Linked DNA regions of Homo sapiens: regions 2, 3 and 4 are each reported to be linked to region 1. The links are microRNA targets in miRTarBase. Many come from high-throughput screens and were not tested one by one. Region 1 holds a microRNA gene; each other region holds the end of a gene's coding sequence.

What was found. Region 1 holds the annotated microRNA hsa-miR-3177-5p (UGUGUACACACGUGCCAGGCGCU, at 1,768-1,790, shown strand). A microRNA usually pairs through its seed, bases 2 to 8, with sites in the 3' UTR of a target mRNA and lowers its output. Matches are read on the target gene's strand: a 7mer-m8 pairs with bases 2 to 8, a 7mer-A1 pairs with bases 2 to 7 and ends in A, and an 8mer does both.
Region 2: the mRNA of SATB2 is a reported target of hsa-miR-3177-5p. Seed matches in the 3' UTR shown: 7mer-A1 at 1,839-1,845 and 7mer-m8 at 2,757-2,763.
Region 3: miRTarBase lists VPS36 as a target of hsa-miR-3177-5p. Seed matches in the 3' UTR shown: 8mer at 1,924-1,931.
Region 4: the mRNA of SLITRK3 is a reported target of hsa-miR-3177-5p. Seed matches in the 3' UTR shown: 7mer-A1 at 1,816-1,822.

Annotation. Positions count from the first base shown.
Region 1 is chr16:1,733,228-1,736,355 of GRCh38, forward strand. It overlaps MIR3177 (microRNA 3177), which reads left to right and starts at 1,758; the gene lies at 1,758-1,839. The region is part of intron 4 of MAPK8IP3 (mitogen-activated protein kinase 8 interacting protein 3); the gene reads left to right. RefSeq lists enhancers at 1,737-2,238, 2,239-2,738.
Region 2 is chr2:199,269,664-199,272,791 of GRCh38, reverse strand. It overlaps SATB2 (SATB homeobox 2), which reads left to right. Exons shown (of 11, transcript NM_001172509.2): 11 at 120-3,128. The coding sequence ends at 581. Among named protein-coding and RNA genes, the nearest start is that of SATB2, 190 kb to the left of the region's middle. RefSeq lists an enhancer at 1-907.
Region 3 is chr13:52,412,998-52,416,125 of GRCh38, reverse strand. It overlaps VPS36 (vacuolar protein sorting 36 homolog), which reads left to right. Exons shown (of 14, transcript NM_016075.4): 13 at 33-109; 14 at 203-3,128. The coding sequence ends at 296. Among named protein-coding and RNA genes, the nearest start is that of THSD1, 8.4 kb to the right of the region's middle.
Region 4 is chr3:165,185,434-165,188,561 of GRCh38, forward strand. SLITRK3 (SLIT and NTRK like family member 3) reads right to left here. Exons shown (of 2, transcript NM_001318810.2): 2 at 1,287-3,128. The coding sequence ends at 2,464. Among named protein-coding and RNA genes, the nearest start is that of SLITRK3, 9.4 kb to the right of the region's middle.

The sequences.
Region 1 (3,128 bases):
GGAGGGCGCCTGGGCAGGAGGAGCCCAGCAACAGTGTGCCCAGCTCATCCCAGATCCCAGAGGTGTGACGTGTGAACTCAGGACGCCGGCCGAGAGCCCAGGTTCCGAGTTGCAGTGATCCCCACCCCAGGCCCACAGACAACACCCGAGAGGTCCTGAGAGCCCCAGGGCCATGTGAGCTCAGCCAAGAGCAGAGGCTGCCCCAGCTCCAGAGCCGCCTGATGCTGCCGTCGTCATGGGCCAGGCCAGGCCTACCTGGAAGAGGCGCGTGGCTGCGGGGCAAGGAGTACTTCGTCCTGCATGTTTCTCTCATGGTGTGGGGCAGAAGGTGGCCCAGGAACCTGCTGTCGAGGTGTCCCCGCGGGACCCAGGGACCTGAGCTGAGTCTGGGCTGGGCGCCGCCCCCGTCCCTTGGCTCGTCCTGGCGCCGAGAGTTCAGTGGGAAGCCCCATGGTGGTGCACCTCGTCCTTGTCAGGGCCCCACTGCTGGGGTCCCCTCTGCAGCTCTGCCACGGCTCCTGAAGGCTATGTCAGGGCTGCTGCACTCCCCTCAGGGAACCAGACGGTGCCCTCTGGAAGAAGCCCCTCGATCATTTTGTAAGGGATGGATCTGGGGTGCTCTCTTGTCAGCGCTGCCACAACCAGGTCCTTCTGCCTGACCTGGCCCCAGCCATTCACTTCTTCTGGGCACACAGGACCTTTGGCACCGGCCGTGGGAGCAACGCCAGCAGCAGTGGCTGTGTGGTAGGGGCCTTCCCCAGCCACGGACCCCAGGAAGCCTCCATTTGTGAAACAGGACCCCTGCACCTCTGTGGGAGAGGGAGGGGTCTCATCCAGGTTTACACCAAAGCCTTGGTTGCCATGACTGGATCCAGCCAGAAGGCACCCTGCAGTGGGGTCTGCGCAGCTACATTACTCTGGCCCCTGGGCCTCCTTGCCAGATCTCCACAGCACGTGAGAAGACGTTGGCCCTGCGGGAAGAAGGCGCTGGGGCTGGCGGCCCTGTCTCCCTGAGCATGCCGAGGCCCTGACGGGAGCATGCTCCATGGGGGCGACAGAGGGGCAGGGCTATGGCTGGGCTACCCCTGCCTCCCTCCCTGGCCGGCGGTGGTACTGAGCCGCATCACCAGCGCACGGAATCGGTCACGCCTGCTGTTGCGGTGGTGGCATTAAGAGCCACCTCCGGGCTCGTGTGTCCCCTGCCTCCCCAGGCCGAGACCCTGGCCAGGAAGGAGAGGGTGGGGCTCACGTGCTGTCTGCCACCTGCCTGCAGGCGTGGATGGCAGCCACAGCCTTGTGCCTCTGAAGGCATGAGCCAGCTAAAGGAGGAAGGCACGGCCCCCCTCCCCTGTCCCGAGTGCTTGCCTTTGTGGGGTCAGGGGTGCTGGGACAGGCCTTGGTGATGTATGCTGTTGCTGGGCAGTTGAGCTGGAAGGAGCCCGTCCCTGCTGGACACCTGCTCTCTCTTCTCTGGTGTGGATTCTGTCCTGCCACAACCTTTGGTCCCTTGGGGGACACATATTTGAGTCAGTCCCATCTGCTCAGCCAAAACCCCTTGATTCACCATGAGGGCGCCGTCCATCCTCAGCGCTGGGCGCCCTCCTTCCTGACCCAGATGGACATTTTCCTTCACGCCTGGCGTGGCTTAGTGAGTGTGTGTCTGGAATGCAGTCGGTGTGAGTGCAAACGCCAGGCAGTGTTCTCGGGCCACTGCTGCAGAGTGTGTGTGTGTCTGTGTGGCCACATGTGTGCCGTCACCACGTGCCATGTGTACACACGTGCCAGGCGCTGTCTTGAGACATTCGCGCAGTGCACGGCACTGGGGACACGTGGCACTGGCTGAACTGCCACACAGCCCCGTTCCAGGGCCTCTTGTCAAAGCCAAGAGGGCTCGTGTGTCGCATGTCTGTCCCTCTTGGGTGCCTGTGTGTGGCTTCTGTCTCATCGGGGTACGGCCGCCCTGCGTGTCTCACATCACCACATCCTGGCCGTCCGTGTGAGCGTCCATGTGACCATCGGTGTGAGCATCCGTGTGAGCATGTGACCGTCTGTGAGTGTGCGACGGTCCATGTGACTGTCCGTGTTTCCGTGTGTGTCCATGTGAGTGAGCGTCCATGTGAGCGTGTGAGCGTCCATGTGAGCATCCACGTGAGCGTTCGTGTGGAACGTGTGACCGTCCATGTGAGCGTCCGTGTGACCATCCGTGTGAGCATCCGTGTGACCGTCCGTGTGAGCGTCCGTGTGAGAGTGTGACCGTCCATGTGAGCGTCCGTGTGACCATCCGTGTGAGCAGCCGTGTGACCGTCCGTGTGAGCGTCCGTGTGAGAGTGTGACCGTCCATGTGAGAGTCCGTGTGACCATCCGTGTGAGCATCCGTGTGACCATCCGTGTGAGCATCCGTGTGACTGTCCATGTGAGTGTGACCATCCATGTGAGCATCCGTGTGACCGTCCGTGTGAGCGTCTGTGTGCCTGTCCGTGTGAGCATCCGTGTGACCGTCCATGTGAGAGTGTGACCGTCCATGTGAGCATCCGTGTGACCGTCCATGTGAGAGTGTGACCGTCCATGTGAGCATCTGTGTGACCATCCGTGTGACCGTCCGTGTGAGAGCGTGACCGCCCGTGTGAGCATCCATATGACCGTCCATGGAGCATCTGTGTGACTGTCCATGTGAGCATCCGTGTGACCATCCGTGAGCATCCGTGTGACCGTCTGTGTGAGTGTGACCGCCCATGTGAGCATCCGTGTGACCGTCCATGTGAGCATCCGTGTGACCGTCCATGTGAGAGTGTGACCGTCCATGTGAGCATCCGTGTGAGCGTGTGACCGTCCGTGTGTGTGACCATCCGTGTGAGAGTGTGACCGTCCATGTGAGCATCCGTGTGACCGTCCGTGTGTGTGACCATCCATGTGAGCATCTGTGTGACCGTCCGTGTGAGCGTCCGTGTGAGCGTGTGACCGTCCGTGTGAGCATGTGTGACCATCCGTGTGAGCGTCCGTGTAAGCATCCGTGTGAGCGTGTGACTGTCCGTGTGAGCGTGTGACCATCCATGTGAGCATCCGTGTGACCGTGAGCGTCCGTGTGAGCGTGTGACCGTGTGAGCATCCGTGTGAGCGTGTGACCGTCC
Region 2 (3,128 bases), not on the chromosome of region 1:
ACAAATGACTATAGCTTACCTCCAGTGCTAGATAGATAACACATATTTCAGAGGGCTGATGGTTTTGGAAAGGTAAAATCATGAGTCCAGTGTTCATTTTTTTCTCTCTTAATTATCAGGTACTTCATAGACAGCAGTCTCAGCCAGCCAAGGAGAGTTCCCCTCCCAGAGAAGAAGCGCCTCCCCCACCTCCTCCGACTGAAGACAGTTGTGCCAAAAAGCCCCGGTCTCGCACAAAGATCTCCTTAGAAGCCCTGGGGATCCTCCAAAGCTTTATTCATGATGTAGGCCTGTACCCAGACCAGGAAGCCATCCACACTCTTTCGGCTCAGCTGGATCTCCCCAAACACACCATCATCAAGTTCTTCCAGAACCAGCGGTACCACGTGAAGCACCACGGGAAGCTGAAAGAGCACCTGGGCTCCGCGGTGGACGTGGCTGAATATAAGGACGAGGAGCTGCTGACCGAGTCAGAGGAGAACGACAGCGAGGAAGGCTCCGAGGAGATGTACAAAGTGGAGGCTGAGGAGGAAAATGCTGACAAAAGCAAGGCAGCACCTGCCGAAATTGACCAGAGATAATGTGAACTTCTACTAGGCAAAGCAATACATCGGTCCAAGGATTTTCTGCTTTCATTTCTTTAAAAGTTTTTTGTTAGTTTGTTTTTTGTTTTTGTTTTTGGGTTTTTTTGGCTTTATTTTTGTCTTTTTATGTCTGTTTTGTTTTTCTTACCCTTTTGGACATTTCTTTGTTGCACAGGATACACCTATAGACTGAATAAGTTCAGTATTTCCGAATCAGACATCGCCTTGGCAAAGACACTAAAGCGTTACACTTTATCCCGTCTCTATGACTGGATCATAGTCATTATAATCACAGGAGACTCTGCCTTCATTATCCTTGCACTTAACGGAAGTTACATCAGGCAAGTACCAGGATGAAAAGAACTATGAAATAAATGAAGGAAGCTACAAGTGTGTGTGTATATGTATATGTATATATCTCTATATTTACATATATATATTAAAATTGCATGGGACAGAGACTTTGCAATCCGAAAGAATAGACTGTGAAATGAGTTCTTAAAGAAAAGACTTGTTTATGTATTAAAAAAACCACTTCACAGTGAGTCGCTTTGGCTTTTTGATAAACTGCGGCCTGCTCTCAGGGTGGGGTGACTATTTTTGAATTCCTATTTATTTTTTGTGTTTGTCCCTGATTTTTTTTTTTTAATTCTATGGCTTCCTATCTGGCAGCTTAATGGGTAATTTTTGAGGTATGTATTTAACAAAATAAACGACACTGCCGAAAAAAAAAAAAGTGAAGTGAAAACAATCAGGGCACATTAAAATGATACAAGTCAAATAAATCTTAAAGACACAATGCACACTTAAAATGACTCAATAAAATGACTTGCTACGTTCCGTTATTCAATTTGTCATTACTGTAGTGAACAGATGCATTTCTGTGGAATTCCAAATAAGTAAAACTGAAATTCAGTGCAGAGAAAACTTTGTCCACTAGTGCAAGTCTTGATCAAATGACATTTTGACATTGGACATATGGAATTCATAGTATGAGCCACATTTTGTTGTGAAATTTATTTACCTGCTTGTGGCTTCAAATCTGAAAATTAATAAGCCTGCTCGTTTAAAAGTTGTTTGTTGTTGCTGTTTTTTTGTCTTTTTGTTTTTTACTAGAAAATAGTTCAGTGTAATATTAAGTTAGAAAAGAAGTTGCTGCCCAGTTAAAGGGGCTCCCTCTCAAATAAATCTCCATCCTTCCCTCTCCCAAAAGACATTTCTGATTTCTGCTTCACTTTGGGCTTCCTCTTCTTCGTACACATTCCATCTACCTAATCAAACATTTTCAGTCCCTGATCTCTCCTGTCCCTTTTCCTGGGATGACAGCCCTAACAAGAACTGTTTTTGAATCGTTGTGCAGCTCCAGGCAATAGAGTATGTGAAGCGATTTCAGTAGAATCACTTACTCATCCTAAAAGAAAACATTATCCCAGTTACCTACATCGCAATTACCTTATGTAAAGCAGAACTAATGCTGACTGGATGTTTAATGGGATGAGCATTAAAGCTGCAATCTACTATAGTACTCCAGATCTCTTTCGGCTTCCTATGAGAAACACCAGAAGCATTACTTTCCACTTCTACTTACAGTAATTGCAAGAGGAGACCTCACATTCAGGACTGGCCTAGTGAACGTAATCCATGCTTTAAACTGGCCATTAAACAGTCCCACATGGTTGGATTTTTTTTTTTTTTTTGAGTTGTGCTTTCACAAAACCTTGTCAAAGACCTCATGCAATATCACTTTGAAAGTTATTTTCTGTTTACTACACAAACATTGTAATATAACTGTTAATACTATTTATATATTTGAAAGGTATAAAAGGTAGGAGTTAAAAAAAAAACCTCTATGTGTAGATATTAACTCAGAACTTACAATATACAGGGAGAAGACATGTTGCAATACAAGCTAATTCTAGCTGCTCAGTAACCTCTGGAGTTTTTAAAGGGACATTTTCCTGTACTTTTTCAAATAATGATGTTTAAAAATTATCTTGACATAAGCGTCATATACCTTTGCAAAAGGATGGTTGTTTGCAGTTAGCCCTGGCCCCATCCTTCCTATTTCTGTAGTATGCTGCAGCTTTAATCAGAAAGTCCATGGTTGCTGCTTCCTGATCTCCGAGTTACTCTTTCCAAATTGTCTTCTTACACTGTTGCTGAAGGTCACTCTGTACACGTAATGGAAACTGATTTTGCCAAGCTCTTACAAGGTGGTTCATCTATCGATGGCATCCGCATTTGGTATCTTTTACACTTCAACCAAAAATTTATTAGGTATTTTTCAATGCTAAGTCTTGCCTTTTATTTTTTAATTTCACTGCCAAGTTTGCAGTGGTTCTAAGTGAATCTGTGGGCATTTTAGCCTGTGGTCTTGCCAGATCTTTGCGAATTACAATGCATATATGTCTATTTATTCAATATCTGTCATATAATATCTATTTGGAAGAAGAAACTTTCTCTTGTAGTGCCTCTTGACAAAGCACAATTTCCCGCCTTTTTTTTTTTTTGTGAAATGAAAAAAACAAATTGTGTTTTATTGCG
Region 3 (3,128 bases), not on the chromosome of region 1:
TACATTTTTTTTCTGCTGTGTGTTTCTATTAGGTTTCAGAAAAGGGATCCCTAACATCAGAAGAGTTTGCTAAGCTTGTGGGAATGTCTGTCCTCCTAGCCAAAGAAAGGTAAGTAAGGTTCTTACCTTTCATTACAATGTATGTTTGTGTGTCTGCATGAACAGATAATTGTGTGGGGGTTTTTTTGTTGTTTTTTTTTAGGTTGCTGCTTGCAGAGAAGATGGGCCATCTTTGCCGTGATGACTCAGTGGAAGGCCTGCGTTTTTACCCAAATTTATTTATGACACAGAGCTAAGGGTTTTGTATTTAAAATCCTTTTTGTCCATATGCTTGCGTCATGTAGAGGTTGTATGACATTGAGCTAAGAGATAAACCCCGATCAATTGAGAATTTATTGGAACTTCACAGTGCAATGTAAATCTCTTTTAATTTCTCACTAAATATGGTCCAGGAAATTTATTTAGTATACGCATAGGAAAATTCAGAAAAGTGAATGCCAATATGAATTTAAAATCATGCTATAGTGCAGAACCCTCAGAGTTTAACTTGGAATATAGTGGATTTTAACTTGATCCTCAAATCTAATCATTTTATAAAGAAGGGAATTTAGTTTTGCAGAGAATAAAAAGAGAAGTTGCATGTTCAGACAGGTTAGATTATTATTTTGGTGTAACTGAAATTCACTGATTGCACATGACAATGTTGGGACAAAATATACTGCAGCATGCTATATGAGGCTCCTCCCCAGGGCTTTTAGAAGCAGTCATAGACATGTCTTCAACATACCAAATAAAATACCTTTAAAAATGAAATAATTTTATTTGACACATATATTTATATATATTCTATCTAGTTTCTCTTTGTTTTTTTAAGTGATGATTTCATGACTGGCATTTAAAGAATGCAACTGTGTCATTTTGTTTCCAAATGCTGTGGATTTTGAAACTGAACTAGAGAGCTGTATAGACATGCCCAGAGTTATGATTACAAATTTAGGAGGTAGACGGCTCAGGAATTCCCTGGGATTGTTGTGCTGGTGGAATGGCAGAGGGAACTTCACAGGAACCTTAGTGTTCTTTTACCTCAAAGCCACAGACAGGAAATAGAAAGTGGAAAAGTAATATCTCCTTTTCTTTTCCATAAGGAGTTTCAACACTGAACTTTAAAAAGTCTATCATATTCCAGCAATATTTTTTCTTTGTCCTTTATGTTGTAAGTTGTGTGGAAAAACTACTTCGGTAAGAAATGTTACTGAGATAACAACAACTGGCTAATACTGCATGTAGATTGCTTAGGTTTTAAAGTGACTGCCTGACTTCACATGTTATTGCTACAGCCTCCAGTATGTTCGCATTATCTCAAACTCAGGGACCCCACAGGACAGGAGACACCCTTTCTGAAACTGAGTTGGAAGTGAAAGGGTGGTGATGGTTTTGGCCAAGCCTGCGGGAGGGAAAGTATTGTATTGGGAGCACCCTTGGGACCAGGAAGAGGGATGCCCAGGTTCACACTCTGGGACCCCTAAGACATTGTCAGTGGGTAAGGTGGAGGGCCACTGCCAGAGGCTGCTGCAGTGCCCTCTGGGAAGTGCCAGGGACCCTCAGCTGCAGACCCAGGGGATCCCAATCCCTTATCTCTGCCTGAAAAGTGGCTATTGCTGCTTCGTATCCTCCAGTGTCACAGGAATGCTGTGCCTGAGACATCCCACTTTAGTTTTTGTTTTCCAAACCTGTCACTGACTCTTCATTGTGGTGACAGATCCTCTGGTTCCCCCATTGCTCAGCCTCAGGTTTATTTTGAGGGTAACTCAGTGTCTGACTGCCCAAGTCTTTTAGGGGTTAGTTGGACCATTGTGTAAGCTTGTTTGTATGTCTCACCTCTTTCTGGTTGGTACTTACTGTCTCACACTGCTCTGGCAAACTTGTACACACACACACACTCTCTCTCTCTCTCACCTGGCTAAGGCTTTTAAAATTATGAAGATAAATAATCTGTTTCACCAGCTGGAGTGAGTTGCAAGGAAGATTGCTGGAGCTACTCAATCTAGCGCTAATGGTTTGGATTCATTACTGCAAACCTACATAATTTAACATATTTGTTTACTTTAGTGTGACAACTGATGAAAAAAAATGGAGCAATCTGAATTGTATAAAATAACTTAAGAAGGAAGAAAAGTGATATATAAATATATTTTGCAAATGTCACATTAATTTAAAAATGAGTATGATTGATTTTATTTTTAAAGTGGGCATTCTTCACTGTTTCGAGACCTTTGTATGTATTTGTGTATTTTTATCTTTTTTTTTCAGGCCATTATTATAAGGTGTTATTTTGGCCCTCTAATGTAGAAGTTATGTTTAAATACAACCAATCAGGCCCTAAGTGCAAAAAAGTTCTGTCTTGGTGCTTATCACTGGTATAATTATTATTTTTTTGTTTTCCTAACTTTGCTCTTAGGAGCATGAGCCTCTTTGTAGCTTTATGGTAATGCAATATTTCTGGTCATTTACTGTCAAAAAATTTTTTTACATTGTGTTAGTGAAGACTGTGTTTTCAGGGTTAAATGATTGGTATCAATGTATATAGAGTAAAATTATTGCAAAATTTAAAAATGATTTTTCTTGGCATTCTTTTTAAATACTCTGAAACATATATGCAAATGAGAAACCTTTAATCATACTAAAGCCAGTTATGTTAAGAATTTTTCCTTTGGATTTTATAATTAAGAGTTGCTTATAAATACTTATGACATTGAGCTCTTACTGTTTTAGTTGTCTTAAAACAATGGGACATGTCATGAACTGGTTTCTTTTTTTAAAAAATTCTTGATGTGAATTCCACTGTTACCTGACCATGTATATTCAGATGAATGTACTCTTTCTTGTTCCTTGTTACCAGATTAATCTGAGAGAATGTGGATTCATCCTGTCATCTTTCTCATACTCAAATACTTAAAATGGTTCTTTTGCCCAAAAGTCTCAGAGTCTTCATTTTGGTACAGTGGAGTCACAACTTGTAAGGTGGTTAGGTTTTAAAGACCGTGCCTAAGGACAAAATTGAGCATGCTCAGAATGGTCCTTGAAAATCTCCTAAATTACCAATAAATTTCTCTTTGTAGTCTTAAAGT
Region 4 (3,128 bases), not on the chromosome of region 1:
ACACAGACAGATAAAGTGAATGATGTTCATGGGCTTTTTCCTTTTAAAATAATTCCAAATTATATTCAAATAATTGAGCATAAAAGTTATAGATACATGTCAAGAGCCCCAAAACTGCAATTTTATATGTATATACTTGTCTTTTTTATTTTTATGCATACCTATGCTGATATTTCTATATAATTAATTAAGAGGAATATAAATATATTCTTGTAGACATTCATGGGGCTTTTCATTTTGTTACTACAATGCCTTCGTGCTATTGTAGTCACACACCTTCAGAAGCTGCTAGACTCATTCTCTTTTTGTGGAAAAAATTGTGATGTAAGGCTTCAGTGACTTGTGATGAATTACATTCAACACCTAATGATAATTCCTGCTATGGGCACTTTGAGGAAACCCTAGCAGAGAGCACTGACCTCGCTGCACAGTTCTGCGGGTCCTGGGTCTGTGGATCTCTGGAACTCTGCTGCCCTCTAATGGCCTACTTAGATAAGTGCCTGCCTCATAGGTCTGTTTTCTTAAGTTTCCTCCACCAATTTGATACCGGCACCATAAAAATCCAATATTCTTTGGTTTCGCTCACATATAAATGGATCTAAACTTGGTTTGTTGTCAGGTTAATTTTTCAACATAATTTTAATGTCATATGACGAAAAACTCATTCAGCATCCTCTGACTTAGTTCAAGCGTTATTGGGGCCAGTTGCTGTAAGTGGTTGGAAAATGGTAACCAAATATAAGTGACAGCTTTCACAGGATTCTGGCCATCTAAATTGGCTCCACGGCCTTTGATATTTATTGGGTTGTGTGGGTGTGTGTGGAAGCGTGTGGGTGTGTGAGGGTGTGCATGTAATTGGACTACATATTTTAAAAACAATAGCAATTTTACTTTCCAATTTCTTTATCTCATTTATTATCTTAAGATGTATGGATCCTAGATTATCTTCTCCTAATTAATCCTGTACTTCTTAGCGATCTAGTTACTTTATTTTCTCCCCCTTGCATCTTGCCTGGGAAACAGTGCATCACTGGTTACTAAGACTGAAATTCATAATTCAAGGAAAAAAAAGTAAACCGTAAGTCACATTTTAAGTCTCAATTGTATCCTGGTTTGGACTAGAGATGGTGGGATATAAGATTTATCAACATCACAGTGCATCAAACCCGTTAATAAATTACTTTCTGTGTAACAAGTAAAAGAAATCATTTCTAAAATGGAAGCACGAAAGGCATGGCATAGCTGGAGTTTAAGGTTCAAGCTTTGTATCCTCTATATATAATGTATTATGTTTTTCAAAAACTTTTTATTAGGAAAGCTATACCAGAGGCATAATCACTATACAATGATTAAACATTACCTTTACAATTTATAATCACTGAAATTACAGAATAAATATATGCACATTTCTTTTGAATCTTTGTGTGTGAGAGAGAAAACATTAAAAGTGCTTCCTACAAAGCTGTTAGTGATATATACCCAGTTGCTTTTTTTAATATTATATATATATATAAGAAAGTGCAGATGTTCTCCAAAAAATCTTGGCATCAGGATGAAGTGTCACAAAGAGGGTGCTCATCCCTAGGCGTGTGTCTTCGGCTGTTAAACCACCAGGCCTCTACTTCAGTAGAATCCAGCCTAGAATGTGACTTTTCCCAGGGTGGTAGGAGAGATGCTGTGAGCTGTACACTAGCAGTGAAGGGTGGTAGAACTATGGAGAGGAGAAAAATGGATCAAACCCGAACTAAGCAGATTGAGTTGAATGGAAATGGTATGGAGTGTGTGTGTGTGTGTGTGTGTGTGTGTGTGTGTGTGTGTGTACCTGCACCAGCAGGAAGAAACTGCAGGTTTAGGGACCATGGTCTGCAGATGGATATGTGTATGAGAGACAAGATAGTGAGTGAGAACATTCGAGCAAGACCCGCCCCCTCCCTCCCCATCTTGCAGTTTCCAGGCATGCAGCAAACTGCATTGTTAATACATGTACAGAATCTGTGCCATGATGATAAGAAAGAAAGCCACAAATGACAAATGTCAACTTGTTTCCCCCCCTTTAAATCAAAACTACAACTATAAAAAAAATAGTTACTGAAAATAAAAAGACACATTGAATTTTACTTAATTAGGATCCATACAATGATCCCCAGTATATCTTATACATGGCACAGTCAAAGTCTCAAGTTTCAGTATAAAAAAATAATGATAACATTTGCTGGCAAAAGTCTGCGAAGGCACTTTCATTGATTAATGATCTGAGTATGGCCCTTCCTCCAAATCGCATCTGAGAGGGGAGAGCATACATCTGTATTCTCTAGTTATCATGCGGTTTTAGTTTTGTTCAGGGTAGGAAAGATCGTGAGGATGGAGTTACTGGGACAAGTGTAAAGGGAGCAAGGGATATATTTCTTTTATTTTCCTTTTCTTTTGAAAAAAAAAAAGCACTAATATATTTTCTTCTCTCTGTTAGAACCTGTATGTTGTCTTCTCCAGGACTTCGAGGTAATCCGGCTTGGTTTGAAGTTTGGCCCTTAACTCGAGGTAATCACTTTTTTGGGTTTGGTGGTCTGTGAAGCCCTTTCCAGCCGAGAAGAGAAGGGTTTCTTTGAGCCTGGCATCCTGCTGTAAGTCTGGGTATTGCATGCCAGGAGGGTGCACGTGCAGTTCCTTTAATTTGGGCACTGTTCCATAGAGACAGTCCACAAATCCCACTGTGCAGGGGGCAGGCTGTGGCCTCTCTCGATCTAGTAGCATACTGCCACTACCACAGCCTCCCCCAGGAGGAAACAGCACCACCCCACCATTTTTCTCATGGTGGCGGAACCCTGCCAAGTCTCCCCCAGTTCCCCCAACTACTCCTGAAACCCCACCAACTGCTGGGTGGTGAGGGTGATGGTGATTCACCGTCACTATGGTGTTAAGCTGGGAGCTGGACACTGCTAGGGCCCACTCCTTCTCTTTTTCCAGCAAGGTCCGGTAGTTACTATGGTTCTCCTTGGGTGTCTCAGCAAACTGCTCACTTCCTAGGAGAGCCTCACCCATTCCCGGTGGTTGTGTCCCTGGACCCCCACGTTCTGCACTCCCTGCTTCTTGGGCTGATGAAACAGCCACCTCCTCCTCCTCACGAGGCT